7 separate regions of the Homo sapiens genome follow, and all the other regions are linked to region 3. Evidence: fine-mapped expression QTL. A gene starts in region 3. Each other region holds a variant in brackets. All regions are shown on one strand. Distances are from middle to middle.

Region 1 (4,000 bases), 90 kb after region 3:
TACTGCTTCTGTTAAACAGGCTGAAAAACATGCCTTGGTTTGTGTGGATTAAGCAACAACTCATTTCGTATTCCTAATCAATAATTTGGCTCCACAAAAGCTAGTTTTTCTTTGTCCTTTAGTTACCTGGGGCATGAGCTTTCTTGTTTTTTTCCAAAACTTGTAATGGGAGTCACTGCTTGCAGAGCGGTCTGATTCAACTTGATCGCGACTGCCTAAAAATCCACAGGAAGACACACTCAGTCCCAGGAGGTGGACGCTTACCTTCCAGGTTGAGAAAAGGGCTGAGATGCCGGTGGCTGATAATTACCTCAGGGTTGTCGGTCAGGTAGATCTGTCTGGAGATGTTGTTTATTGCACATATCCACTGTAGAGGACATTAAAAAAGAACACTGAATCCCAAAGTCACCCACCACGTTAGGAAAGAAATATGACAAACAAAATTTTTACCTCTTCATTTTCCTTTCTGCTCTCAGCCTGGAGGATTATTCCCCTGAAACAAAAGTGTCTAAGTAATTAAGTGCTTCCCTGATCTCAGTGACTGGGAATTTCTCTACATAAACTGAACTTAGCTGGGGTGTGGGAGGAAAAGTGCCATGAAGGCAGCATGATGAGAGGGAAAGAAAATGGGGTTCCAGGGCCAGGTGCAGTGGCTCATGCCTGCAGTCCCAGCATTTTGGGAAGGTGAGGCAGGAGGATGGCTTGAGCCCAGGAGTTCGAGACCAGCCTGGGCAACATGGTGAAACCCCCTCTCTACAAAAAATACAAAAATTAGCTGGGCGTGGTGGCGTGTGCCTGTAGTCCTAGCTACTAGAGAGGCTGAAGTGGGAGGATCGATCGAGCCCAGGAGGCTGAGGCTGCAGTGAGTGGTGACTGTGCCACTGCACTCCAGCCTGGGTGATAGGGCAAGGCCCTATCTCAAACAAAAAAAAAAAAAAGAAAAAGAAAAAAGAAAATGGGCTTGTAGGTCTGGCTCTGCCCTGATTCACTATGTGATCTTGGACAAACATGGCCGTTTCCCTGGGCCTCAGCATGTTCATCTATGAAATGAGAAGGCGGGACTCGGATCTTCTAGCCCAAATCTGTGTTTGTACAGTGAGATCCACCTGTTGACCTCCTCTAATGATCCAAGATGACCAGGACTCCAAGCCCAGCCACTCCTCAAACCATGCCCAAAGAAGGACTTGGCAGCCCATTCACTCCTTTCCCAGAACTGAAAAGTCTGCTGCGTATGGAGGCCCGGGAATAAGGTAACAGTAATACTGCCCTACCTTTGTGGAGGCGTTAACTCTTTTTTTTTTTTTTTTTTTTTTTTTTTTGATGGAGTTTTGCTCTTGTTGCACCAGGCTGGAGTGCAATGGTGTGATCTCGGCTCACCACAACCTCCGCCTCCCAGGTTCAAGCGATTCTCCTGCCTCAGCCTCCTGAGTAGCTGGGATTACAGGCATGCGCCACCACTAACGTGCCCGGCCAATTTTGTATTTCCAGTAGAGACGGGGTTTCTCCATGTTGGTCATGCTGATCTCAAACTCCCAACCTCAGGGGATCCACCTGCCTCGGCCTCCCAAAGTGCTGGGATTATAGGCGTGAGCCACTGTACCCAGCCGAGGCTTTAACTTTTTAAAGAGACCCCACATCTGCCAGTTCCCTTGTTCCTCTCATCTGTGGCAGATGGAGTAACATAGATCTTATCCCTATTTTATATCTGAGGAAAGTGAGGCCCAGAGGAGGTAACTGCAAAGGACCATGATGAGCATCCAGGAATCTCCATTCCCAGGTCATTTCCCATCACCAAAGCAGGAAGGATGAGGTCTAAAGCTGCTCTGCCAAGCTGGGAGGAGAGACATCATCCCAATGCCGTCCCCACCCCTACCCCTGCTGTTCAGGTCAAATCTTAATAGAATGCAGTGTGAGAAGAGCGGCTCTGATGACGGGCAGGGCCACTCCTCTCCCCAGGCAGGTGAACCCTGAAGCCCCTCCATGGGACCCTGAAGCCCCTCCATGGGACCCTGAACTCCTTGGAGCAGTTTAAAAACCACCACTCTGAGAGGGGATCCCACTGGGATGGGATCTACTGTGAATGGCCACAGCCTGCGGATTGGTAAAGTACCACCTCTTTGGGGCCCCTCAGGTACACAGGACATGTGGGAACAGCCTGGCAGCCGACGAT[G/A]CTGCTGCAGTGGAGTACACTTCTCACAACTCCTGCTTCTGCTGGAAAAATGGCCTTCTCAGGAAGGTCGTCCTTACCAAAATAGTTACTCTCCCCTGCTGCAATCCAAACACAAATGCTTCTTTACAACAGGCTAGGAGTAGCCACAGCCTTCTCTCTCTGAGAATCTATGCTAACAAGCACGACTTCTGTTGCTGTCTCACACACGTAGGTCATCTCTTCTCCAAAGCCACAGACAAACCCTCACTTATCTCCATATGGGATAAGGCAGGCTGGATCCCTTATGGGTCATGCGGGCTTGTTTAAAGAGAGCAGAAAATCATCCTCCTGAAAGGTCAACAATACCCAGATTGGGGCCTCTCCCACAGAGGGCTGGCACATAGGAATGAACTAGGAGGCCCTTGGAACGGGTGGAACCACTATACTCATTCTCCTCCCAAATAAAACGCGTGAAACATACGATTTTCCATTGGGCGTGGTGATCTGGAAGCAGTAGCGCCGGTCTTCGCAATCCACGGCCATCACTGAGCAGTTGTCCAGGTCCTGGATCAAACCTCCAGCCACGGCTCCCCTGGGCTGACACATGAGATTCCCGCCTTGGGTGAAGAAATAAAGCCTCTCCCAGGTGGTGGTGACCAGCCCTGTTTTGCTGTGAGTTGTGTTTTAAAAAGCCCATTAGTACCAGAAAGCACCAGCGGCCACCTCCAAGTCTTGCTACCTCGTTATGGGTACTGGTGGCATTTTAGAAATAATGTGTTTCTTTATATCGTTAAAGCAAAACTGCCCATTCAAGTGGAAAGAGCAGCAGAAGGGTACAATTTAGCTGGAATGATCTGGGAGATCATGGGCTCTGCTTCCAAGGGAGACACCAGTCCCAGGGCCGACTCCCCGCACCACAGCCACATGCTGACTACTAAACCAGGAGATGCAACTAGAATGAGTCCGACACCATTAAGGACTGAACACCTGGAGAATCATTTCTCTGACACCTGGAGCTGAGCTGCTCTGAATCTAGTCAGGGTTGCCTTAGCCCACAGCACCCACCCCATAGTCCTAGGAGGCTCTCAACAGACTGGATTTTGCTGTAATTGAAGGTCATTCTTGTTTTGTGGGCAGCTTACAAAAGGAAAATCTAGTTCCTGGCAAATAACGACAGAACCCGGTAGGTTTTCTACATCTGCAGAACTACAGGGGACATTTAGCTTGTGATCGCTGCAAGTTCACAGACCTTAGAGGTACTCCAGCCTGGTAACAGCTGGCAGTTCCTCTCCATGGACCCTCCACTGGGGGTTATCAAACACATTTACTTGGCTCAGTATTTACTGAGTAGCAACTATGTCCAAAGGCACTGGGTTTCCTGCCCCAATAATTTCCCCAAATGGCAACGGCTGACATCTGAGTGCTCACTGCCTGGGAGGGATGACCACATTCAATCTAACTTCGTAAAGCAGGTGCAGTTATCAGCTCCATTTTACAGATGAAGAGATCAAGGCTCAGCCCAGCTGGGATGTCTGATTCCAAAGTCAGTGCTTTTCACACCACACCATGACAATATCCTCTCTGCTCACAGAAATACTTAAACCTGATCATCCCTTCCATTCAAAACGGACACTTAAAGACCTGAGTGGTAAATGTGTGACTCAATCAGTATGAATCGAACTGACTCTAAAAGCCTCCTGACCTTGCCTCTGGCCTTGCAGGTAGGTCTCCAGCACATGGCTCTCATCTGCCAGCTGGTGTGGGGGAAGTGGCATGAGGGGATAAAAACTGTCAGTGGTCCAGGACGGCAACAGTTAAGAGTGGTCTGTTTGCACATGGCCACAGTGACCA
Region 2 (4,094 bases), 150 kb after region 3:
TCATAGCTCTGTGAGTCACTCTGCTCACCCAGAAGGTCACTGAAGATTCAAATGAGGCAGATAGGATTGTCCATCTCTGCTGGAAAATTGTTCTATAGCAATTTTGCCTATCTAGTACAACATTTTGGAATGCTTGGAATAGAGTAACAGCAACAGCAACACAATCATAGACCATGATAACTGCCATACATTGAGGCCTAATGTATGTTAGATGTTGTGTTAGGTGCTTATATAATTGAGGTCGACAACCACGCAAGGCATGTATCATTATTCTTATTGTGTGTATTAGGAAACAGAGGCTTACATGACAAGTTTGGAGGTGGCGTTGGGATTTGGGCTCAGATCTAGCTGACTCTGATGCCTGTGCTTTGCCCACCACACTGAACTGCCCTGAAAATGTGATTCTATACCTGAATCTTGCTTTCTGGGATGCTATGTAATTGAAGAAAAGTCTTTGATACCCCAATTACCCTGATGTGATTATTACACATTGTATGCCTGAATCAGAACATCACATGTACCCCATGAATACATATACCTATTATGTACCTGTAATCATTAAAAATATTTAATTAAGAAAAATGGGAGCAATGGAAATATGTGGAGAAGGAGTGTTCTTGTGAAAAGATTCCTTTGATGTAGCATTTTTAGGAATACAATGTTTTTTTCCCCATATAACTGAATTGTCAGTTTGTTATTTAAAAAATACTTTTGAGGAGGATCAGAAAATCTTGGGAGAAAAGTGCCTTTGTTCTTCTTAGCCTTATTAAACAGAGTAGACAGAATGTAACATTCTATTCTTGGTGTGTTAAGGCCATTTTTATAAGCATGAATTGTGATTCTCTAACATGAATAGTGCTATCCCTGGAGCTACTGTAGGCTGTCTATGAGGGAGAGGGTGTTTCCTCTATATTAACCAGCATGAGTTCCTTTTTTTTCTTTTTGTTTTGTGGGATGTCAAAGTCATCTCTCAAGACCCTACTTAATCATCTTCCTTGGAGACCTTCCCTGACCCCAAGGTGGAATGCTTCTCATTTAAGCTTCAACCAGCCCTTACATACCTCCATATGGCATGTGGCCCCTTGCACTATAAGGATCTCTTTATAGGCAGGTGTTCCCACCTGACTGCACTGTGCTGGAGGCCCTCCTTCCACCGTGTGCCCCAGGCCCTGCTTGGTACAGCCCATGCACAGAGTGGTCTCTCAATACATATTTCTGGAATGAATGAGTGTTTATACCATAGATGATAAAAAGGGAGTGAATTACTTTTTCATTATGATTGGGGGGTTGTTATTGAGGTCAGGGTAGCAAAATGTATACATCTTTTTTTCCTGAATGCTTTTCATATTAAATATGAATTTGTGGGTGTTTCACTCTCCAGTCTTCAAATGTGAAGCTGGCTCTATGGTTTCTGTGTGCCTGTGTCATTATGTATGACTTTGGTTCTATGGCTGAGGTCATTTTAGGCTGTGGGCAGACCTCCCCAACCTCTGCCTGTGCTGCAGCACTCCACTTGATCCATCCCATGTTCTCTCCTGACCCATCGTCCTTCCTTGACTTCCTCATAAGAGGTGAGTTTCACTAGCCTCTGACTCTCTATAGAGATGTCAGCAGACAAGCTCCTAAACCAGTTCCTTCTTCTCCTGGGGGTGTACACAGTGGTCACCTTGTTGATAGCAGAATTCCATTCCCTGATGATCTGGCATTTGCCACATTGTTGCTCACTGAATTTGCAAGTAAAGCTCCCTCGCCGACAGAGGAAGGGTCTCTCCTTAGCCCCTCCCTGCAGTGAGGGTCCAGCAGTGATTAATGCATGGACTAGGAGGGAAGTCGGCCCTTTCTTTGGGCCTGTTTGATCACT[C/G]ACAGCTGTTTACTTAGCATCTCTACTGTGAAGATGATACAAGTCCCTACCTCATATGGTTTTTACAAGGATAAAATAAAATCATACTTGTGAAGCATACTATCATTTCTGGCATACAATAAGAATGCAATAACAAAACCTACTAACTTTTGCCCAAGATTAGGGGGAGGGCAATCAGTGATATTAATAAATTTAGTTTTCTAGCTTAAGGATTCCAGATGCCTCATCTAAACCTTTGAGGGAAGGTTTTTGTTGTTGTTGCTTGAGATTGTTACAAAACACTTTGTCTAAGAAGCAGAAAAACCCAATCCAGTATCAAGATTAGGTTCAATGTTAGTAGCACAGCCCCCTTCCCTACTCCCTGGATAACCATGGCTTAAACACACAGATTTTCTCTCTCACGTAAAAGTCCAGAATTGTCAATCTAGGGCTAATGTGGTAGCTTTTCTTCATGAGGTCCTCAGGGATCTAGGCTCCTTCTATCCCGAAGCTCCATCATATAACCTCCATAGGTTACATCATGGCCCAAGAAGGCTGCTCAGCTCCAGCCATTGAATCTACAATCCAGGCAGAAAGTAGAAAGGGGCAAGGAAGAAATAGTAAACGGTATTTGCCAGATCTCTTTTAAGGAGGATTTCAGAAGCTGCCATATGAGACTTTTACTTATATCCCATTGGACCGAACTGACTCACATGGCCATACCTAGCTGCAAAGAAGGTTGGGAAATTCAGTCTTTATCTTGGCATTGCCCTGTGTCCAGCCAGAAACCAGGAGTTCTATTACAATGGAGGAAATGGAAAATGAATATTGAAATCAGTCTTTGCTGCACAAACTCATCCACTTCTCCTTATTATATTCATTACATTCAAGGAATTTAAGTGAGGTCCCTAAAACCTCACTGTATTCTTTTCAGTCAATAATAACATGACTTAGCATTATGCCTGACACTGATACATATGCAATAAATCTAGGCATTGGGAATGCAAAGATAAATAAGGAACAGTTCTTCCCTAAATAAAAGTGGTATAATGGCTTCTGTGCTGTACCAGTGGTAGTTTCAAAGTATTATTGGATATGGGGGAAGGGATGAGTGACTTTCTGGAGGGTCACGGTGGATGGTCTGGAAAGGTCTAACAGAGAACAGCTTTTGTTTGGGACCTTGGTGAATAAAGAGGACTTTCTTAGAAACAAGCAGATACAAGCCAAAAATCAACTGCTGGGTGCATTCCCAGCTATAGGCAAGAGGTTCTTGGCTCAAATATGTGGATTCAAGCAAAGAATTAGGAAAAAATGGAGAGGGAAAGTACTTTGCCTCCTCCCATCTATGTGCACCCAAGGAACCAGAAAAAAAAGAATGGAATACAATGGTTATTTTTTAATTTCAATAGTAAAACATGGCTAGGCCATTTATTGCTATAGTCCAAATTTTTCCTCTGAAATATTGGATACTTTTCCTGTTGAAGAACAAATCTAGCATAAGGTTAATGGGCAGAGGGTCCCATTTTTAGAAACAGGTTAAACATACTGTACTGTGGAATAAGCTAATGTATGCCTGATATGAAATTTATGCTAAAATAACTCTAAAAATCTCATTAGGAGAGTAACCAGAGATCCTGAAAAACAGCTTTAATAATGGCAATAAAAGCAATCTCACCTAGTTTAGTATTACAAATGGGGAAATGAAACTATGAAGTTAAGTAGCCTAGCAAAGCCATGGGGCATTATTATAGAAGCAGCTCAGATTTTCTCATTCCTATGAACGTTTGGTTCCCTCAGTTACTAAACCTCTTTTGCATATGGACTTTTGCATATATATAACTATATAGTTATTTCCTACACTACGTACATATAAGGTTTCAAATTACACTTTGTTTTCTATTTTGCTCCAATGTACATATAAGCTCACATGTACAACCTGAGAAAACTTAGAGTTGACTGTGACAAGTCTTGATGTCTTTCATCATGCCTTTGGATAACAATTTAAACAACAGGGACAGTGCTGTTACAAAACTAAAATTATAAATATGGAAGCCATCATATGTCAAAACTGGATGCAAAATATTTTGAAGGCATTGCTTCCTAAAAGAAAACAAAGTAACTCTAGTTCATCAGAATCCAGGGAAGAAGAGAAAACCTATCCAGCCATCTGTAGTACAGCTGAGTCTGCGACATGTGACATGTACCATCCAGCATGTGACATGTACCTTCCAGGGGTTGCTTTGGGAGCCTCGGA
Region 3 (4,000 bases):
AATAACTTTCAGATAGCACTTTTCATTTAGTGAATGTGCTTTTCTATTTGGTATCTAATTTGTAATTCTCTAACAAAATTTGAAATTATAGGCTGTGAAATTTGATTTAAACATATTTAAGATCAAGACAGAAAATCCCTGAGTTTTTTTTTTTTTTTTGAGATGGAGTCTTGCTCTGTTGCCCAGGCTGGAGTGTAGTGGCTCAGACGACTTTCCTGCCTCAGCCTCCAGAGTAGCTGGGACTATAGGCAGGCACCACCATGCCCATCTAATTTTTATATTTTTAGTAGGGACAGGGTTTCACCACGTTGCCCAGGCTGGTCTCAAACTCCTGACCTCAAGTGATCCACCCACCTTGGCCTCCCAAAGTACTGGGATTACAGGCATGAGCCACCACACTGGGACTTGTGAGATCTGGGACTTCTGAGATCTTTTTAAGATAAATCTATATTGATTCATAATAGCAACCTGGTACAGTATGTGGTTGGTATTGTTCTATGTACCTTATATGTATTAACTAATTTAGTCCTCGTAAGAATCCCACAAGGTGTTTACTAGTTTTATTTTATTTTCATTTTATAGATGAGGAAATTGAGGCAGAGGTTAAATTACGTGACCCAAGATCACATGGTTAGTAAGTGGCAGAGCCAGGATTTGGACCTAGGCAATTTGGCAGTCAAAACTGTGCTTTCAATTATTACATGACACTGCCTCTTGCTACTAATCTATTAACTTTAATAGATTAGTGTATTTATAGACTCAAATTTTTCTGACTTGTAAGTTCAATTTATCACAATGAGCTGCTGGGAGATTAATTACAGTGATTTAATGCAAATGTTAAGAATCCAGGAAAGTCAAACTCATGGTCACACAGAAAGTACAGGAAAAAAGTTTGTCAGCCATTAGACCCTAAGGATGCCTGTTCTTTTCAAGATTTTTTTTTTCTTTCTGAAATGCCCACTAAGTCTGCCATAGGGTCAGAAAGCAATTTTCTTACATGTTTTATAGTTTCTGCATCTAGCCTGGTGCCTGGTACCCAGTGGGCACTCAATAAACATTTAACTCAGGGCAGATCCAATGACCTCAGAAGAATGCTCTTCAATAGACCTTTTGCCTACATTGATTAGTTCTTTTCGGTACTTTTTAAGATTACAAGAGTAAAACCCTAATAAATTCTCATTGTTAAGGATTCAAAACACATAAGTAGACACATCAAAACTTGAAAATCCTGTTACTCACCAACACATGCTTTTCCCCAGGTAACCACCGTCCTCTGATTTGTCTTCCTATGAATTTACATACACGTAGGCACATACGCGTTTGTATAACTTAAAAACATAAATGTAATCACAAATACACATTACTCTGCAACTGTCTTGTGTCGGTTGTTCATGCCATTATAAATATATTTCATCTATTTTAGCAGCTCTTCAGTGATTCGTAGTATGGATGTATTGAGCTTTATGTAATTCACTTGTAATGAACATTTAGATAGTTTCCTATTAAAAACCACGTTGCTATAAATATTCTTGTGCAAATACGTGTATGCATGTAGAATTTTACACCGATCCCGATTCTCCAAAAATCCAAATTGCAGGTGGGATCATTTTAGAATGTACTTCAATAGCGTTCTTCATCCTGCCTCGCGTTTTTAAAAGGACTGAGTGGAGAGCGGGGAAGAGGTCGTAAGATCCCCTGTTAGGGTGTTCATAAAGTAACTTCTCCTCTCGCACAGAACGTCTTGACTAAAAAACAATCCGTACAGAATGTGCGGGAGAGCTGTAGGAACTCCTACGGTGGCGACAGAGAGGGAAACAGGCTTGTTGGAAGAAGCGCCTGGTCAGCGTTATCCTCGAGGATCATGCCTTCCTGTTAATTCCCCACCCCATCAATTCTACCTTTTTAGGTTAGACTGGGGAGTAACTTTCCCAGGTATTAAAAATCGTCTAGAGAGAGCAGGGCGAAATTAGAGTGCCGAAGTGGCTTGAGAAGCACAGTGAATGGTGGCGAAGCCCGAGCCGGGTCGCAAGACGCCCGCTGGCACTGCCGGCGCCATGGCGGCCGCCTTCGGCCACGGCGGAGGACTCGCTTTCCCAGGGGCCCCCGCGGTCGCAGGGGCAACGAGCCCGGCCGGCCCTCGCGAGCGGAGGCGGGGCCGGGGCCGGAAGTCACGTGCTGTGACAGTAGCTGGGGTGAGGCCGTCGTCGCCGCACGGGCTGGTTGGGGCTGTGTCTGTGGGAGGCGCCGGGGTGATGGCGGTGGAGACTCTGTCCCCGGACTGGGAGTTTGACCGCGTTGACGACGGCTCGCAGAGTAAGGGAGCTGCAGGGCGAGGGCTGCGGGTGGACGCTCCTTCGGCCCGCCGCTGTTCTGGGCTGGGCAGCGCTCCTGCGAGAGGGACGGCTGCGCAGCCGTCTGGTGCGGGACACTTCAGAGCCCTTGGGGTGTGCGAGGGACGCGCTCTCCAGCGTTACTTTCGGGGTTGGGGTCCCAGCCACGGCGGGTCAGGCTGCCCGTTCAGGGCTCGGCGTGTGAGGCGGAGACTCTCCTGGGGAGCCTGCGGTGCCCCGCGGGGAGCGGCGTCCCCCTTCAGCTGCCCCGGGGCTTGGGCGGGGCGCGCCCGGGAGGCCCAGCGGCCCCGGGATCCCAGGCTGCTTCTGTCTCTGGCCTCTTGGGGATTTCGCCAGATTCTGAGCGTTCAGCTCTGGAGGACGCTGATGTCTGGGTTCCTGTTTCGGTTTCCTGTTTTTCTTCTTTTCCTCCCAAATCAACTTTTGCAAGTTTGGGTGTCTTTCCCATCGCGTTGCTATAACCGTAGAAGGGAGCGAAAAAAGAACTTTTCACCCTGCGAAAATAAACACGTGAATGTCATTTTATCATTTTCCAGGCCTTTTATTTATGCTAAGTGATATTTTTCAGTGATGTTCTGCAGTTTCCATCGCAGTTATAAAGGCTTCAAAAATTACAGCAAATCTTCAAATTTTGCTTCACAAGATCGAATTGTCTGATTTTAACTTAGAAGTCTATCCCGAAATAAACAAATTGTGTTTCTTTCAGTAAAATATTGAGGCCAAATTAATTGTAGTGAAACTCTACTTGAAATAAATACAAGTTGGCAATCTGCTTCTTATCTTTGGTCATAGTAATCTGTGTAAGTGATCTAAGAGAGATTGGAGCATGCTGTTTGTGATTTTTTTTTTCCCTCATAGTTTTCCCAAAAGGTGGAACGTTGCTTTTAAAAATTCCGGATGAATTTTGCTTGATTTACGAAGAGAGACTAATGCCTACAATGTTAGATGAATTAGGTTTTACAAGTCTCTCAGAGAAGAGTGAGCTACATCCAGGATGGGTTGCAGTTTTTCACAAAACATTCCTGAGGTCAGGAGTTCAAGACCAGCCTGGCTAACATGGTGAAACCCCGTCTCTACTAAAAAATAAATAGCTGGGCTTGGTGGCGAGCGCCTGTAATTCCAGCTACTTGGGAGGCTGAGGCAGGAGAATCGCTTGAACCCGGCAGGCGGAGGTTGCAGTGAGCCGAGATCGCGCCATTGCACTCTAGCCTGGGTGATAATAAGGTATTAGCTCTTATGCAGCATAAAAATTAACCTTGGAGATAATGACAAAATCTTTTAATTTTTTTTTGTGGAGGGGATTCTGTATTGTTATAAAGTGAACTGTACCTTGTCATATATGTTTTATGGACAAAGATGACGAACTGGTATCTTCAAAAAAAATTGGAATAGAGTTATGTTAATTGAGTTTGAAAATGGTTCAGCCTGGAGTAGAATGGTCTGATTCACTCAACAGATATTTTCTACAACCAGTGGCTGTGCTAGATATTAGGGATAAAAAGATAAAACAAGGAGTGCAGTCTGTTGACAAAGATGAGCATGTTAAGTAGGTTTTTGGAATTTTTACTCTTAAAAAATTACCATGTAGTTCTTATCTCAACTTTTGTTATTTTAACTTTCACCAATTTTACAACCGTTTATTGTCAGCA
Region 4 (4,094 bases), 30 kb before region 3:
TCTAACACTGAGAAGTTTTCAGATTTCATGACTATAAATATGTTTATAATGAGTTAGCAAGATTCCAGAAAATTGGACTGATATATTTTACTTTATTTATTTATTTTGAGACAGGGTTTCACTCCATGGTCACCCAGGCTGGAGTGAAGTGGTGCAATCTCGGCTCACTGCAGCCTCCGCCTCCCGGGTTCAAGTGAATCTTGTGCTTCAACCTCCCTAGTAGCTGGGATTACAGGCACACACCACCATGCCCAGCTAATTTTTGTATTTTTAGTAGAGACAGGGTTTCACCATGTTGGCCAGGCTGGTCTCAAACTCCTGACCTCAGGTGATCTACCTGCCTTGGCCTCCCAAAGTGCCAGGATTACAGGCTATTTTACTTCAGTCTTATTTCTCCAGGTGTGGTGCCTGCCTGTATTGGCAGAAGTAACTGGGAGAACATGTTTAAAATGTGGATTCCTGGGCCCTACTTCAGATCTACTGACTCAGAATCTTAAGCCCAGGAAGCTGCATTTTAACAAACTCTTCAGTGACTCAGAAGTACATGGAAGTCTGAGAATCTCTGCTCTGTGGAGAGTGGTATGTCTGCCCACAAGAACAAGATTCTGCCCTGGGGAGTTTCGGTCAGGAAGAAATGGTGGAAATAAGAGCAAACATTTTAATGAGACCCTAGTTTGGGCCAAGTATTTCACATTATTATCTCATTTGATTGCACAATGACTCCTGGAGACAGGCATTATTAACCCACTTTAGGGATAAAGAAATTAAAGACAGAGAGGTTAAGTAGCCAGGAGTCAAATAGCTGCTAAGAGGCAGCCCTGAGATTCCAACTCTGTTTATTATCCTAGTGCCTATTGTTTTTTCATACACCAGCTGTGCAGTCTTGAACTGGGCTTTATTTTCCATCATCAATTAAAATCAGAATAGTAATAGTACCTATCTCATAAGGTTGTTATAAGGATTCAATGGGATAAAGTGTGTAATGCATTAGCACAGTGCATGGCAATAGTAAATGCTCAGTAAATGTTACCTATTATTATTATCATACCATAAGCAATACCTAGGTACCTACAAATAATGATAATAGATATTTCCTATTGGAAATATACCATGAGCCAAACACTATGTTGAGCCCTTTTCATTAATTCAAAAAGTATTTATCAAATGCTTATTATACATCTTTAATCCCCCCAGTGACCCATTTTGCAAATGAGAAAACAAAGGGGTCAGAAAGTTAAGTAACCTGCCCAAGGGCAGAGCTAATAAGGGTCCAGGGCAGGATTCAAACCTGGATCTGTCTTACTTTAGCAGATGTGTTTCTAAGGCTTTCCTATGCTGAAAGTTCCCCTCCTACTTTAGAAAAAGAAAAACATAGCAACAGTTTGACAGGTCAATTGGGAATAGTTCCATCAGCCTGTTTAAGGAAATGCCACAGTGGAAGTGACGTGGGAGACAGCACCATTCTTTAACCGGCTCTCACTATAGGTGTCTGTCGCATTAGTGAGAAAGGGCATAAAATGACACACAGTCATTTCCAAATCTGGATGATAAGTTCTATAATCTAATCTTGTTTCTTTTTTCTTTTTTTTTTTTTTGAGACAGAGTCTCACTGTGTCACCTAGGCTTGAGTGCAATGGCGCCATCTCGGCTCACTGCAACCTCCGCCTTCCGGGTTCAAGCAATTCTCCTGCCTCAGCCTCCCAAGTAACTGGGATTACAGGCGCACGCCGTCATGCCCAGCTAATTTTTTTTTTTTTTTAATTTTAGTAGAGATGGGGTTTCATCGTGTTGCCCAGGCTGGTCTCAAATTCCCGAGCTCAGGCACTCCACCCGCCTTGGCATCCCAAAGTGCTAGGATTACAGGCGTGAGCCACCACGCCCGACCTTGTTTCTTTAGAGAGAACATTCTTCACTAGAGGAGACTTTTGCAGGGAGCAGAGCCTTTGCTTTCCAAATTGTCAAATAATGCATTCCCAGGCTGTCCACCCTCTGGTGGAATTCTTCAGGAAGCAAGTTAATACAGACCCTGACTATGCTCCAAGAATTAAAAAAAAAAAAAAAAAAAGGTACACATAGCTTTCCAAAGAAAACTTCAAGGCACAGTGCGAAGAGTCTGCCCTGATCTGAAGCCCTTTGGCCAGATGCTAATAGAACCATCTGGGCAGGGTGTAAAGTAAGGCCAAAGCTATCCAAGTAAGAATTGGCAGTTTCACACAGAGGACCTTCACACAAAAGAATAAAACAAAGTACATTTTCCTGAGACCCTGAGGTGCCTAACACTTCATGGAGCATCCGGCACAGAGTGCCCCAAACTGTGCCTGACTCTGTGCAAGACTCATCCAACAA[G/GCA]CATGTTTTCAGGCTTTGCCACACTCTGGGCGTAGTGCATGGTAGAGGTGGCACATTACTGGCCTGGCAGGGGTGTTTTATTTGGCCCACAAAGCATTTTTAAGAGGACTCTGTTAAGATTTTTAGGAGGTTGCACCTCAGAAGGCACAACTTCTAACTTGTCTTTAAAACTCAGGAGGTTTGGCTGGGTGCCGATCACCTGAGGTCAGGAGTTCAAGACCAGCCTGGCCAACATGGTGAAATCCCATCTTTATGAAAAGTACAAAAAAATTAGCTGGGCATGGTGGCGCGTGCCTGTATTCCCAGCTACTCAGGAGGCTGAGGCAGGAGGATCGCTTGAACCCGGGAGGCAGAAGTTGCTGTGAGCTGAGATCGCGCCATTGCACTCCAGCCTGGGCGACAGAGCAAGACTCTGTCTCAAAAAACAAAAATCAAAAAAACTCAGGAGGTTTGTCAACCCTGGTCTGTGGCGCCGTATAGCAACAGTCAGCTAGCGCTGAGCAGTGGTGGCCCCTTTACCCTAGACATGGTCTTGCCCTCTATGCAGCTCAAATCTCTCATTTGCTTTACCTGTTTGGCCTCTGTGGGAATTTCTCTTTGCGACCCTTACACTAAAGATAAAAAGAAGCAGTCCCTGTACTCGGGAATCCACCAACTAGTAGGGAGGGCACACAAGCTAAGACATAGTAACAGTGCTAGAATAAGAGAGCACAGTTTGGTTAAGAGACGAGAAGCCTTCTCCAGAAGGGAGTTACTTAGCTGAATCTTAGAGAATCCATCTTGGGAGTTGGCAGAGAAAAGGGAGAGGCTTGGGAAGTTCCAGGCAGAGGGTGCGGTATTTACAAAGAAACAAATGCATGTGCACAGCGTGTCCAATACTGGGAGTTAAGGAGTGGTGACAAGCGACACCGTAGCAAGAGACATTATGGAGCGCTTTGTGTCAAATAATTGGGACCTTATTGTGAAGACAATGAGATTCACTGAGCCGCTTTAAGCAGGAGAGTTAATTGAAACCAGGAGAGTCTAGTTTCTATGCTAATAGACTGCTTAGGTAACTCTGGAGGCATGAACTAGCTCCGGGTAGACACACCTCTTGTGTTGAGAATGGAGCAGAGCGTGAAAATCAAAGCTGACCTAGCAATCCACCTGTAGCATAGTCACAGGATATAGTCTGGAATAGTGTGAAAGCTCTTGCAACCAATTGTAACAAACTCTCATACTAACAGAAGCAACAAGTACACTTTACATAGAGGTAGATCTGCAAGATTCAGGATACCATCCTAAATGGCAAGCTTGCGCAACTTGATGTTCCTATTGCCTCATTATATAAAGAAGATATCAGTGAGGGCTTTCTTGGATGTCTGGCCAACTTTTGTTTTTTCATCATAAAAAGGATAAAATATTTTAAAAGGAGGGATGTCAGTACAGGGGCCTATGAGCAGGTGATGCCAGAGGGGGATGCCCAGGACTCAGAGGCTGGAGAGAGCTCCTGGGCCGAGGCTGGTGACCACAGAACACTTCAAAGACTTTGAGTAAAGGGAGAGACAGTCCAAAGGGCTCGAGTCCAGAAACGGACTCCAGTACTAGAGAGGCAGGATTTCCATGCACAGAATTTACTATAATATTTTAATTGTATAAAATTTTTAAAATTAATTTTTAATTATACATATTACATATACACACAAGCTCCTTACGAAAAGAAAAGATCACAGATAAGACTACAGTCCCTTTTGACCATCACTCCCAAT
Region 5 (4,083 bases), 53 kb after region 3:
ATGCATTTCTGTGAGAATAAGGCCCCAGCACAGAAGCTTTGCTCTGGAATAGTCTGTTAGATAGCTTAAGCTCTTTGCCAGATTACATAAGCCATTTACAAAGTTAAGCCATTTGAAGTCATGTGCCTGAAAATGGTTTAAATAGTTTCTGATGTGTGTCTCAAAGGAAAGGATCAGACCTTTACCTTATGTTAAATGATGCCATTCACTCCGAAAGTGTTGACCATTTAAAAAATATTTTGAAGCAGTGTGAGGAAATCAGAGAGTAGGATATTGTCTTCTAAGATCTCTAGGGTAAAGCTGACTGCTAGTTGGAAGATCCAGATTGGTGCAAGGGAGTGGTTGATTGAAGTCAAGGAAATGTAGGGTCATGATAATGAATAGATTATCTGCATAGACAGGGGAGAACTGGAGCAGGCATCCTAATCCTGCGTAATTGTAGGACGGTGGTTAAAAGGTTAGTAGATGTCTGCTGTTAGGAAGAAGTAGTTGAGTATTTGGGTAGTTAGATATAGTTGGATTATGTGAGTCACAAAGGAAGATTTCTTTCTTACAGTGGTGGAGGAATAATAATTGAAAGTGGTAGTAGCTGTACATGAGGGATGCAGGAGAAAAAGCAGCTGATGTTTTTGAAGGTTGAGAGGGAAACTGAGTTCTTGAAAAAAAGAGCCAGGTTTATGTTGAGGTAAGGGGATGTAGGAGAAACGTTAGAGATTTAAGGGGAAGAGGAAATATTTACAATGAAGAGGAGTTCTACAGGCCTCACTGTGGGAAGAAGAAATACAGAACTATTATTTTAAGTCCCAAGATGTTCTAATAGTCTATTTTTGGGACTAAATTTACTAATATTGATCAGTTTTCTGTCCATGAGAAAATAAGTTTATTCTGAACTCCAAGAAAATTTTCTTAGAAGTGTCTTACAGTGTTTCCTGCTTTTCAAGTGTTCTTATCTAAACTATTGAGAGATGGATTTTTTTCAAAGCCACGCTTCTTTTGAGAAAGGAACCAAATAATTTTTTGCTTTTTAGGCATTTGGATTCAGTCCTCAGTGATCACACACGAAATTCTGCCGAAGGCACAGAATATTTCAAAATGCTTGTAGACGTTTTTGCTCCAGAATTTCGAAGGCCAAAGAATATACATCTCCGAAATTTCTATATAATTGTTCCCCCTCTGGTGAGTATTTCCAGAACCTAAAATGAATTTTTTTTTTAAAAAGAGTATGCACAAATAGATCTGGTTTCTTTGTAACACGAAATGCATACAGACTACACTATTAATTTCCTGGTTGCATATAAAACTAAATGTGATCTCAGTGAATGTGACATAGAATTTTTTATTTGTTAGCCATGCTGAAGGACACTTTCTTATTGTTAAATTTTTTTTTTCTTCTGAGATGGGGTCTTGCCCTGTCACCCAGGCTGGAGTGCAGTGGTGTGATCATGGCTTACTCAGGCTTGACCTCCTGGGCTCAAGCCAGCCCCCTGCCTCAGCCTCCCTAGTAGCTGGGACTACAGGTGTGCACCACCATGCCTAATTTTGGTAATTTGTTTTCTTTTTTAAGATATGGGGTCTCACTGTGTAGCCTAAGCTGGTCTTGAACTCCTGGGCTCAAGCAGTCCTCTTGCCTTGGCCTCCCAAAGTGCTGAGATTACAGGCATGAGCCACCACGTATGGCCTAAGATAGATTCTTATTTTTTTTAAATAATTACTGGAGAAATTTGAGTATTTTTTAAGTTATATGAGTATATGCCATAGAATCTTTGGGCAGAATTATTAATATATAATCATTTTAAGTGCTTAATGTAGAATAACTTTAGCTGTTATTATAGTTTTTTCTAACACATTTCTTAAAGCATATTGTTTCAAGATAACTTCTTTCTATTCAGTAGTAAATACTAACATCTGGACTAAATTTTTAATGCTTCTTAGAGTATGTAACGTGTTCTTGCTCTAACTCTGTAGTTGCTATCTAAAAATAGTTCAAGTTATCAAAAATTGCATTATAAAAACAGCTGTTCCATTAGGGAAAATGGAGTTAAGAATTTTTGAGAGGTATATATTAGTAATAAGAGTTGTTTTGGCTTAAGGTTCCTATAAAGTTTAAAAAAAATTGTAAGTAGATAGCTTTAAAATCTAAATATCACCCAGCAGATGAAGCTCTTTATTATATTTAATTTTGATCAAGAATAGTGACTTTTCATATTGCTGCCCAAGTTGTTAACACATCTTCTTACATATTAAAACCATTATTACCTATTGAAAGTAGCTAATAGCCTATAAACAGCTTTTTTCCATGAATTTTGTTTCTTTTATACATTTGTTAATTTTCTATCATAATTGTATTTTAACTATGATATAGCAAAAAATGTTCATATTCATCTTGTAAGAATCTTTTCATCTTAAGATAGTGTCAAACTGGAGGGAGA[G/A]TGTCATATTTGGTAATACTATAGTTAACTTGGGGTGAGTTCTCACCATATTTTTTTAATTTGAAGGGCAATGTACTCAAACCATTGTAGACAGCAGTTAACCCATTGGTAAGCTTAGGAAAAAGTCTGGAGTTTTACAAGGCAGTTGTCAGAATTCGCTTAGTGATGGAGAAAACAAAGTGGATTAAAAGCACTACAAAGAAGTATAGAATACTGTTCTTGTACTTGTGTTTGTAGTGTAGTTCCAGAAAAAAGACAAGCATAAATGAGATTTCTAAAAAAGATTGAATTAATGATTGATAAAAAATTCACAAACAGGTGATTAATTGCTGAATAAGTTTCACAGTCAAAAAAATGAAACTTGGTTTTGTTTCCAGCGTAGGCTATTATAGTACTTAGCACACTGTATATCATAATTAGTTTTTAAACACTTCTGCATTTACTCTTCTAGAGCTGTGCTATCCATGTATAGTCACATGTGGCTACTTAAGTTAATTAAAATTTCATAAAATTAAAATCATAAGGCAGGGCGAAAAAAATAAAAATACCTTTTTAAAAATTAAAAATTCAGCTTGTCAGTCACACTAGCCTCATTTCAAGTGCTCAGTGGCCGCTTGTGATTAGTGGCTTACTGTATGTACTGGATGGTGCAGATACACATTTCTGTCCCTGCCAACAGTGTTGCTCTAGACTGTGAACTCTAGATAGAAATCATTTGTTTAATCATAAGTACTTAATAATGCCTGGTATATTGTAAGCTTCAGTAAATCTTTGTTGAATAAAAGATATGATTAGATAAGTCATTTTGGAAGAGCTGAATTTTCAAGAGACGTACTGTTTTGAGGATTCACACTTAAGAACATGAAAAGAAATAGTATTTTCGAATGAATTAGGTAGGTGTAAGTAAGGACTGTCTTGCATATGTTTTTAAGAGTACTTGTGCTTTGAAATAAAGCAGGCCTACTTTGCTAACTCCAGCATTCACTTAATATATGACTTTGGGTGAGATAATAAATCTCCCAAGCCTCGGTGTCCTTCTCTGTAAAATGTGCATAATATTTTATAATGAGATATACAAGGCACTGTTCTTGGGCTAAGTAGTGATTGAGGGAGTGCCCATATTTAAAGGACTTGGAAAGGAGATCCATGAAGATACACTTGTATAGATTGTATCTTCACCAAGAGGGTACCTAAGGCAAATGTTTCAGATGAAAAGGACAGGAATCTAGATTCTATTCTATTCTATTTATAGTGATTCTATTTATAATTTTTAAAATGTCTGTTATAGGAATTCTGAAGATTTTCTTAGCAAAATTGTTTTTCTAACATGTTGTTACATCTTTTTAGACCCTCAACTTTGTAGAGCATTCCATTAGTTGCAAGGAAAAATTAAATAAAAAAAATAAAATTGGAGCTGCCTTTACTGATGATGGCTTTGCCATGGGTAAGCTTAATGGAATTGTTTTTCCATTAATTTTATATTGACCTTGTAATGGATTCTTAGAAACATCTGCTTGAGAATAGGTCTATATGTTCTTTATAGATTTTTCTTTCTTTTTTCTTTTTTATTTTTTTGAGACAGAGTCTCGTCTCGCTCTGTTGCCCAGGCTGGAGTGCAGTGGCACGATCACTGCAAGCTCCGCCTCCTGGGTTC
Region 6 (4,094 bases), 110 kb after region 3:
GTGTTGGGAGGCTCTGACAGACAGTCTCCAGGGAACAGATGTTCTGAAGACAAACTAGGAGTCAGCCATGGGGACGAGCTTTCCAGGAGGCGCCAACACGTGGAAGAAATGCACTGCCTGTCTGAACAGCTCTGAAGTGGAGCGTGGCTGGGGCAAGAGCTGTGCGCTTGGAGGTGATATCAGGCTGGGAATGAGGCAGTGGGAAGGTGTGCAGGCCCCCGGGGCCCAGGCTCACACATACTGGAAGCACAGTGGGGACTGAAGCAGCATATGACAAGGTCAGATTCCACCAGGCTTAGAACACTCGCTGGCAATGATGGATGGTAACAGAAGCACAGCTAAACCCAAGTATCCCAGAAAACCAGAGGAAACACTGCTCTTCAAGAGCTGCGATGCCCTGGGAGGCCTGTTTTGTGCCATTTTCACCAGCCCGTACTGCTCATTTTCCTCTCCTCTTGTTTATTCCTCTAATCTCTGGCTACACAGCGGTTTTCTACCACTATCCTCCTACCACTGATGTGGGCAGCCTAGAAAACTTGCCTTACATTTCTAAAGCTCAGTTAAAGCTTAAGATTCAGGGTTTATTCCTAAGGAGCAGAGCCACTGGGTCTGACATGGCACAGATGATGGGAGGACACTGGCCTACCTCCTTGGCCTTGGCCTCCACTGGCTATTTCTCCTGGGGTTGTTGTTCCTTTAAGGCTAAGTCCTGAGCTCTGCAGGAGCTTATTTTATTTTTCCCAGTCCTATTTGGCAGAATACAGTAGAGCCAAGTCCTACCTTTTTTTGACCCTCTTCGCAGACAACTGGCCAACCTGTTCCCTGACTTCCTGCTCTGCCCTAAGGAATAGGCATTAATAGACCAGGAAACGTGGCTCTTTTTCCTCAGAAGAAAGTCAGACAAATACAACAAAAGTGCCTGGCTCTGACATCCTACTGGTATTCAACCCCTTTCAAAACTAACCAGAAATGTGACTTCTAGCCACATAGTCAGGAAGTCAGCAAGTGGACAAAGCCACAAGCACAATGTCCTTCATTCAGATAGGAACGTCCAACAATTCTTAGCACACAGCAAGCCCTCAACAAATGTTTGATGAATGAATGAATGAACAAGATTAGAAGATTCATCTAAATTCCAAGTTTAAAACAATACCTGAAATCATGGTGTAAGGGTTTTAAAATCCTTCCTAACTGTACAAGGAAACATCACAAATGAAATAAAATACAAAGCAATTGGCCAGAGACTACTACCTGTCAACCATCTTTAGCAGTGTTGTTTTGAAGATCAGAGTGCATGGAAACAAAGGTCTTATCTCACTCACTGGGCTGATACTCAGCTATGACTGAAAATCTCGTGCTCCTTCTTTCTGAGTTAGCAGCAGATGGATTCATTCAAGCTATCTTGGCATGTTCCTGAGGGCAGCACCATGTGGAACATGATTTGCAGACCCACAGAATCATTGTAACAGCAGCTAACATTTACAGAGGGCTTCATTCATGCCAGACCCTATGCTAAATGCATTCTGTGCACGACCTCATCTAATTCCAATGACCCTGTAAAAGCAGGTTCTAATTAATAACTCTATTTTATAGATGAAGAAACTGAAGCACTGAGAGATTAAGCCACCTGTGCAAGGATACACGGCTGATGAGTGGCAGGGCTGGGATGTGAACCTGGAGCTGTCCGATTCTAAAATCCACACTCCTAAATGCTACTGAGATCCCAAGTTCTACCACAAGGCAGGAGAGGAGAAGGCCTCTGCTTTACACTAGGGTGGGCAAACTTTTTCTGTAAGGAGCCAGAGAGTAAATATTTTAGGCTTGTGGGCCATATATGGTCTTTGCCACAACTATTCAACTCTGCTTTGTAGCACAAAAGAAGCCAGAAATAACATATAAACAAGTAAATGTGGCTTCATTCTGATATAACTTTATTTACAAAAATAAGATGCTGGCCCAAGAGCCATGGATTACTGATCCTGCTTTGTCATCAGATGTCTCAAAGACCCATTCTTTTGCCACACCCTCTGCAGGAGGCTCTCTTAAGCTACACCATTTCAGATCCCAGGAGCTTCTACTCTTCTAATTCATTCTTTTCTTTATTTTAGTCAACTCTAATATGTTACTTCCCCATATATGCCTCCTTCAGAGACTGGTCAACACATATA[A/C]CCACCCTCCAGGCCTTCCAAACAAGCAGGGACCATGGGCCACTCAAGTTCTTCCTCAGAGCTTACTGGCAAATGCTCCGAATGTAATGGAAAGACCTGCCAGGGAACTGCCAGCATCAGGCTGTACCCAAAGCTCAAGGGGAGAGCACTCATGTGCCACTCACACAGCCACACAGCTCCACCTCCGCTCAGGGAAGAAGGGGCACAGCGTGCAACACACAACAGCTGCCTTCCAAAACGACTTCGAACAACCAGACTCTCTGGGTCTCTCCTAGGAATACCATTTGAAAATGCTGCGTGTTTTCCTATGTGTAATATTTCAGGGTGCAAGACCAACTATGATTCTGTGCAGCCAGTATGAGTTCATCGGAAACCAACATGCTTACAACACAGCCTGTCACCTGCCCTGAACAGAGCACATTGTGTGAAAAGTCTTTCAAAAGAGATCAACTTTAATCTTACTCATACTTAAGCTACTGTACACAAAGGTTGTAAGAAATGCTTTACCAACATCAGCTAATTAATCCACGCCCTGTGCCCTGTGAGGTAGGCCTGCAAAAATATCTCTACAACAGGACTTGCAAAACTGGAGCCCGAGTGAGGAGTAAATATTAGCAATAACATCAATAAAGATAGCTGCTAACCCTGAGTCTGCCCTAAGTGCTTGATGTTGCTGTTAAATGTTTTTCATATATTATCACATTTAATCCTCACAGTGCACCCATGAAGTAGATACTATTATTATTTCCATTTTGTAAACGTGGAGACTAAGCTTCAGAAAGGATAAATAACTTTCTAAAGCCACATGACTAGTGACTGGCAGGCAACAACTTAATGCAGGACTCGAAATCAAAAGCTCATGTTCTGACTATTATGCTATTCCAATCTAAAGTCCAAAATTGCACCTACTCAATACTCAGGTGGGCAGGACCTGTAGGGCCCATAGATATGAACCTAAGTCCCACACTTTTCTAGTGGTAGAAGAGCAAAAGACGTGGGCTAAAGTGGGAATTCTCAATGGAGTTCCATGAGCAGCATTGTTTTGGGCACTCTGGGCCGCTCTGGCTGCCATCTACACTATGCACCGCTTTGTGAGAAGCCCTGAAAGGACACCCTGAGGAGGGTTTGCTGACAGCATCTCCCATGCTCAACAGAACCTCCCGGGGCTGTTGCCAAGGCAGAAAATCAAGTGGCTAGCAAGCCTGAAAGGAAAACTGGGCATTTGGCAAAGGAATGTTTATCTTTCTGTAGCACAGAACGCTAACTAAATGCAACTGTCACCTGAAACCCCCAAGGGCCTCTGTGCGCAGCAGCATCCACGGTGAATATGAATGGAGAGGCTAGAGAGTGGGGTGGAGGAAATCCACATCGATCTATACCAACTATTTGGCTGGAGATGTTGCCTAGTCACATTCAGTACCCAGTGTTTATCACAAAGCTGGCGGTCACGGGTCGCACTAGTTCAGGAGCCCCTCGAGACAGGATGCACACAGGGAGTAGTGAGGGGTGTGGCAAGAACGCGGCTGGAGCGTCTCATGCGAGGCAGGCCACGGGGGGATGCCTGCTGGACCTGGACTTTATTCCAGCGGCAGTGGGGAAGCACCAAGGAACTCAGGCAGGAGTATGAGAAGCTCAGGCACGGGTGGAAGAAAACCAGGAGTGGTGGTGGTGGGAAGAAAACACTGAAGTGGGAGAGAGAATAGATGAGGGGGACTGATCAGGAGGCCACTTGGAGAAGCTGAGATAAACAAGTGTCTGAGCCTGAGGCAGACAGTGCAGAGCGGGGCATGGAGGTATTCCTGAGGCAGAAACAGCAGGGTGTGGTGAGTGAGGAAGGCGGGGGAGTCAGAAAGAACTGTGCTGCCCATGTGGAAGGCCAGATGGAGAACGGTGCCTTCAGCCAAGGAACTGAGGAGGGGATATGAA
Region 7 (4,087 bases), 23 kb before region 3:
AGAACAGTTCCATTACCGCCCAAATTCCTTTATGCCTATTTATAATCAATCCTTCCTCCTATCTCCAGCTCCAGACATCACTGATCTTTTTTCTGTCCCTATAGTTTTACTCTTCCAAAATGTCAGATAAATGAAATCATAAAATATGTAGCATTATGAGTCTGATTCTTACACTTAGCATACATATTTGAGTTCCATCCATGTTGTATGCATCAGTAGTTCATTCCTTTTTCCCCCAACTGAGTAGAATTCCATTGTATGGATGGATATACCACAGCTTGTTTATCCTGTCACCAGCTGAGGACAATTTATTTCCAGTTTTTGGCAATTATGAATAAAACCTCTAGAAACATCAATAAACAGGTTTCTATGCGGGCAAATAAGGTTTCATTTCTTTTGAGTAAATACCTAGGAGTGTGATTCCGGGGTCATATGATAGGTTTATGTTTAACTACATATAAAACTGCCAAACAGTTTTCCAAAGTGGCTGTACCATTTTATATTTCCACCAGCCATGTATCTGTTTGATTTTGAATAATTCTTATAAAACACAGTCCAGAACATTTTCTACAGGATAAAACATCCCACATTTTTCATTCACCACTCAGTAGCTTCCTTTCGACCACTGAGGAAACTGTCTTCTTCCCAGCCATGAGTATCACTGCTTTTCCATATGCACCCCTGCGTACAGTTAGACCCTGATCACGCCAGTTCTTCCCCACATCCATAGTTTTGTTTATGCCATTTGCCACCTGAGATGTTTACCTTTTATTACTGAAATCTTATGCAAACCGCACTATCAAAATCTTTTCATTCTGCAAGACTTCCTTCTGGTCACCAAAAAAGACAAGTCAGTGAAAGGTGTTGACAGAGGAGGCCAACAAAACAGGCTCAGGCATTGGGCACAGCCCGTTGCTTTCTGTGCTATCCATCTGGGATCCCATGTGCCACGTGGTGGGGGAAGCTAATGAGGGGTCCAGGAGAGCAGGCCAAAGTCCTAGCAGAGCAGGTCTTCCCCACCCCCACCCCTCGTTTTATAAAAGGTGACTATACCTCAAAGTAACTAGAACTGGTTGCAAAGAGTAAAACGAATTCTTATTATTTGGGGTTGTCTGGGATACAGAAAGCTTTTCCTTTGATGCAAGTTTGGGCCAGTTTTTGGTGCTACTCAAGACTTCTCTCTGCCTCCAAGTTTTTTACATCTGAATATATACATATGTACATATGGCTTTGGCATGGCCGAGAAAAAGAATCGATAAGCAAATTCTTTTATGTACTTCCTATAAAAGATACGATACATAAGACAGTTTTTATTTTTTTTTTTTCTCTCTCTCTCTTCCCTAAACAGTCCCGAGGCCCCCTGGGTGCTGAAGGCAGCACCGCAGTGCAACGTGTCCTCTCTCGGTTCCATTTCTGGAGGAGCTGATGCAATTCCAAGGCGCGGGGCTGGGCCAGAGCTCGGTTCTTGTGCTACAGTAGAATAGTGTTCCAGCGTGGCTGCCTCTGCAGCGCCTGGCAATTCTAGAAATTTTGCCATCTGCAGCTCAGCTCAGGAATACTGAGCTTGCAGCCATCAGCTTTGAGTGCCATTATCTGAACCGGCCCTGCGTGCCAGTCTCGAGCGCTTACACCTCCCAGGCCGCCAACGAGGACCCTATTGACTTGATACTCCCCTCCTCCAGGAGACAGTCTCGGTTCCATATGGCTCCAGCTCTTGACCAGGGA[T/G]CTCATGATTGAAGTGAAAAAGGAAAGGAAGCAGACTCTGTCCTCCTTACCAAGTGACTGTTCCCACCTTGCCATCCCAGCCAGACTTGACACGTCCAAAAACTGCATCCTCAGCCCCCTCCCGGCAGAAGACAATGGCCTGCGTGCCAGTTCCCATCCGGGACCCTCCCCAAGCCCTCCTCTGAGGTCTCTCTGTTTTTGTTTGTTTGTTTGTTTGTTTTAAACGCTGTCTTGGTGTTTAGCAAAGTCTAAGCATCGCTGCTCATCCCCAGCCCCACCGCCCCGGCCCTCCCGCCCCGGAGTCTGGAAACCAGGACAGGGTGACAGCCGGGACGCTCGCCCGGGCCGGACTCACCCGGCCAGTGGAGAAGCGCCGGAGCGCCTGGCTGCCCCGCCGCAGCATGCTGGAGAGGAGCGCTAGCACTGGCGACGCGGCAGCGCGGGAGGCAGGCGGGCGGCGCAGCCTGGGCGCGGCCTGGGCGCGGCCTGCAGTCTGGATGCCCCGGACTGCCTGGCTCGCGGCTCGCCGCTCTCGGCCTCTGCTAGTCCGCACCCCTCCCAAAGCCCACAGCCCGCGGCCCGCCCCACCCTACCAGCTGCAAGGCCCCGCCCCCTAGCTGTCAAGACCCCGCCCCCAGCTGGAAGGCCCCGCCCCGCCAGCTGGCTGCGTTCGGACAGCCAACCTGGTGCGACCCGGCGGAGCGCGTGGGCTTCCTGGAGCCTGTGGGCCCTGACCCTGGTGCCAAGAGCGCACCCAGTCCCAGGGACCGCGCCTCTCCGCTGCCTGGACTTTCCGCCAATTCCAGCCAAGGTCCAGGTGCTTTCTAACTGTGGGACCCTCTACCAGTTACTCAGCCCCGCAGCAGTGTATACGGATCTACCTTATTAGTGGTCAATCTGACATCCCAAGTGCTGTCCATAGCACAGCCCGTAAAAGGCACGCCTGTAGACAGATAGGTAGTGGGGGCGCCTTCGCTGTGGAGGGATCCTGATGCCTACCTCGTAGGACGGTAGGCCGGGCGCGGTGGCTCCCGCCTGTAATCCCAGCACTTTGGGAGGCCGAGGAGGGAAGATGGCCTGAGCTCAGGAGTTCGAGACCAGCCTGGCCACCATGGTGAAACCCCGTCTCTACTAAAAATAAAAAATAATAAAATAATAAAATAATTAGCCGGGCGTGATGTCGCATGCCTGCAGTCCCAGCTACTCGGGAGGCTGAAGCACGAGGATCACTTGAGCCGGGGAGGCGGAGGTTGCAGTGGAGCTGAGATCATGCCACTGCACTTCAGCCTGGACAACAGAGCGAGACTCTGTCTTAAAAATAAATAAATAAATTGGTGCAAAAGTAATTGTGGTTTTTGCCACTGAAAATAATGGCAAACCCGCAATTACTTTTGCATCAACCTAATAGATACGTGCCCTTCTCCCTCACCTCTCTGGAAAAAACGCTCAGACCTGCTTTAGCTGGACGTTTATCTCAAGCCAGACTTCTTAGCCCAGCATTCAGGGCCGTCTGCAATTTGCCATTTTCTCTTATTTCTCACTGCTCTTTTGCATATGTAATTCTGCTTGACTGCAGTTCTTGCCTATTCCTTCTTGGACAATGTTTCCCAGAAAAGCTTGTCATCTGTCACTTGTAATTATCTTGGCACGACCGTTTCTTTTCTGAAAGGTACCGCTTACATGCTGCCTCCTGGAGGCGCTTTTTTCTGATTCTTTTCTCTCTTAGTCTCCTTATTCCCCATAAATAATTGTTCACTCCTCTTAACAGGAAATAATCTTTGTCTATGCATCTGTTATGGCTGTCTCAATCTGCTACTGGTATTTGTATACCTATTAACGTCTCTGTTGGAAGCTCCTTGCAAGCTAAGTCCATGTCTGATTAATCAGGATTTACAGTATCTAGCACTAACCAGAGCTTTAAAAAAATAATAATAAAATAAAAAATAACTTGTTAAAAAAAAACTTGTTGAAACGGATGAATGTGTTTAAGAGAGTAAGGAGACAAAAAAGAACCATCATTAAAACTTGGAGAATTGCGGTTGGGCGCGGTGGCTCACGCCTGTAATCCCAGCACTTTGGGAGGCCGAGGTGGGCGGATCACGAGGTCAGGAGATCGAGACCATCCTAGCTAACACGGTGAAACCCTGTCTCTACTAAAAATACAAAAAATTAGCCGGGCGTGTGGCGGGCGCCTGTAGTCCCAGCTACTTGGGAGGCTGAGGCAGGAGAATGGCGTCAACCCAGGAGGCAGAGCTTTCAGTGAGCCGAGATCGCGCCCCTGCACTCCAGCCTGGGCGACAGAGGGAGACTCTGTTTCAAAAAAAAAAAAACTTGGAGAATTGCAACAAACATCCAAGGTTTT

Evidence for each region. PIP is the estimated chance that this variant, and not a neighbour inherited with it, causes the effect. A credible set is the group of variants that fine-mapping cannot tell apart.
Region 1: its variant is the best candidate, but not a certain one, in a credible set for the expression of WASHC4 in spinal cord (GTEx, PIP 0.56).
Region 2: its variant is the best candidate, but not a certain one, in a credible set for the expression of WASHC4 in spinal cord (GTEx, PIP 0.68).
Region 4: its variant is the best candidate, but not a certain one, in a credible set for the expression of WASHC4 in whole blood (INTERVAL, PIP 0.76).
Region 5: its variant is the best candidate, but not a certain one, in a credible set for the expression of WASHC4 in whole blood (INTERVAL, PIP 0.60).
Region 6: its variant is the best candidate, but not a certain one, in a credible set for the expression of WASHC4 in caudate (GTEx, PIP 0.54).
Region 7: its variant is the best candidate, but not a certain one, in a credible set for the expression of WASHC4 in whole blood (TOPMed, PIP 0.77).

Annotation. Positions count from the first base shown.
Region 1 is chr12:105,195,135-105,199,134 of GRCh38, forward strand. It overlaps APPL2 (adaptor protein, phosphotyrosine interacting with PH domain and leucine zipper 2), which reads right to left. Exons shown (of 21, transcript NM_018171.5): 11 at 2,631-2,819; 12 at 451-493; 13 at 311-367; 14 at 127-215. Among named protein-coding and RNA genes, the nearest start is that of APPL2, 39 kb to the right of the region's middle. The variant G/A (reference allele first, on the strand shown) is at 2,171.
Region 2 is chr12:105,257,645-105,261,738 of GRCh38, forward strand. No RefSeq gene overlaps it. Among named protein-coding and RNA genes, the nearest start is that of APPL2, 24 kb to the left of the region's middle. The variant C/G (reference allele first, on the strand shown) is at 1,862.
Region 3 is chr12:105,105,549-105,109,548 of GRCh38, forward strand. WASHC4 (WASH complex subunit 4) reads left to right here and starts at 2,183. Exons shown (of 33, transcript NM_015275.3): 1 at 2,183-2,313. The coding sequence starts at 2,253. It overlaps LOC414300 (a long non-coding RNA gene), which reads right to left and starts at 2,094. Exons shown (of 2, transcript NR_121211.1): 1 at 1,240-2,094. RefSeq lists silencers at 1,992-2,271, 2,482-2,731 and an enhancer at 2,292-2,451.
Region 4 is chr12:105,075,694-105,079,787 of GRCh38, forward strand. All of the region lies in intron 1 of ALDH1L2 (aldehyde dehydrogenase 1 family member L2), which reads right to left. Among named protein-coding and RNA genes, the nearest start is that of ALDH1L2, 6.7 kb to the right of the region's middle. RefSeq lists a silencer at 3,258-3,552. The variant G/GCA (reference allele first, on the strand shown) is at 2,347.
Region 5 is chr12:105,158,973-105,163,055 of GRCh38, forward strand. It overlaps WASHC4 (WASH complex subunit 4), which reads left to right. Exons shown (of 33, transcript NM_015275.3): 29 at 1,029-1,176; 30 at 3,777-3,873. Among named protein-coding and RNA genes, the nearest start is that of WASHC4, 53 kb to the left of the region's middle. The variant G/A (reference allele first, on the strand shown) is at 2,430.
Region 6 is chr12:105,218,462-105,222,555 of GRCh38, forward strand. All of the region lies in intron 2 of APPL2 (adaptor protein, phosphotyrosine interacting with PH domain and leucine zipper 2), which reads right to left. Among named protein-coding and RNA genes, the nearest start is that of APPL2, 16 kb to the right of the region's middle. The variant A/C (reference allele first, on the strand shown) is at 2,169.
Region 7 is chr12:105,082,309-105,086,395 of GRCh38, forward strand. ALDH1L2 (aldehyde dehydrogenase 1 family member L2) reads right to left here and starts at 2,150. Exons shown (of 23, transcript NM_001034173.4): 1 at 2,081-2,150. The coding sequence starts at 2,128. RefSeq lists enhancers at 993-1,793, 1,288-1,527 and a silencer at 2,028-2,457. The variant T/G (reference allele first, on the strand shown) is at 1,726.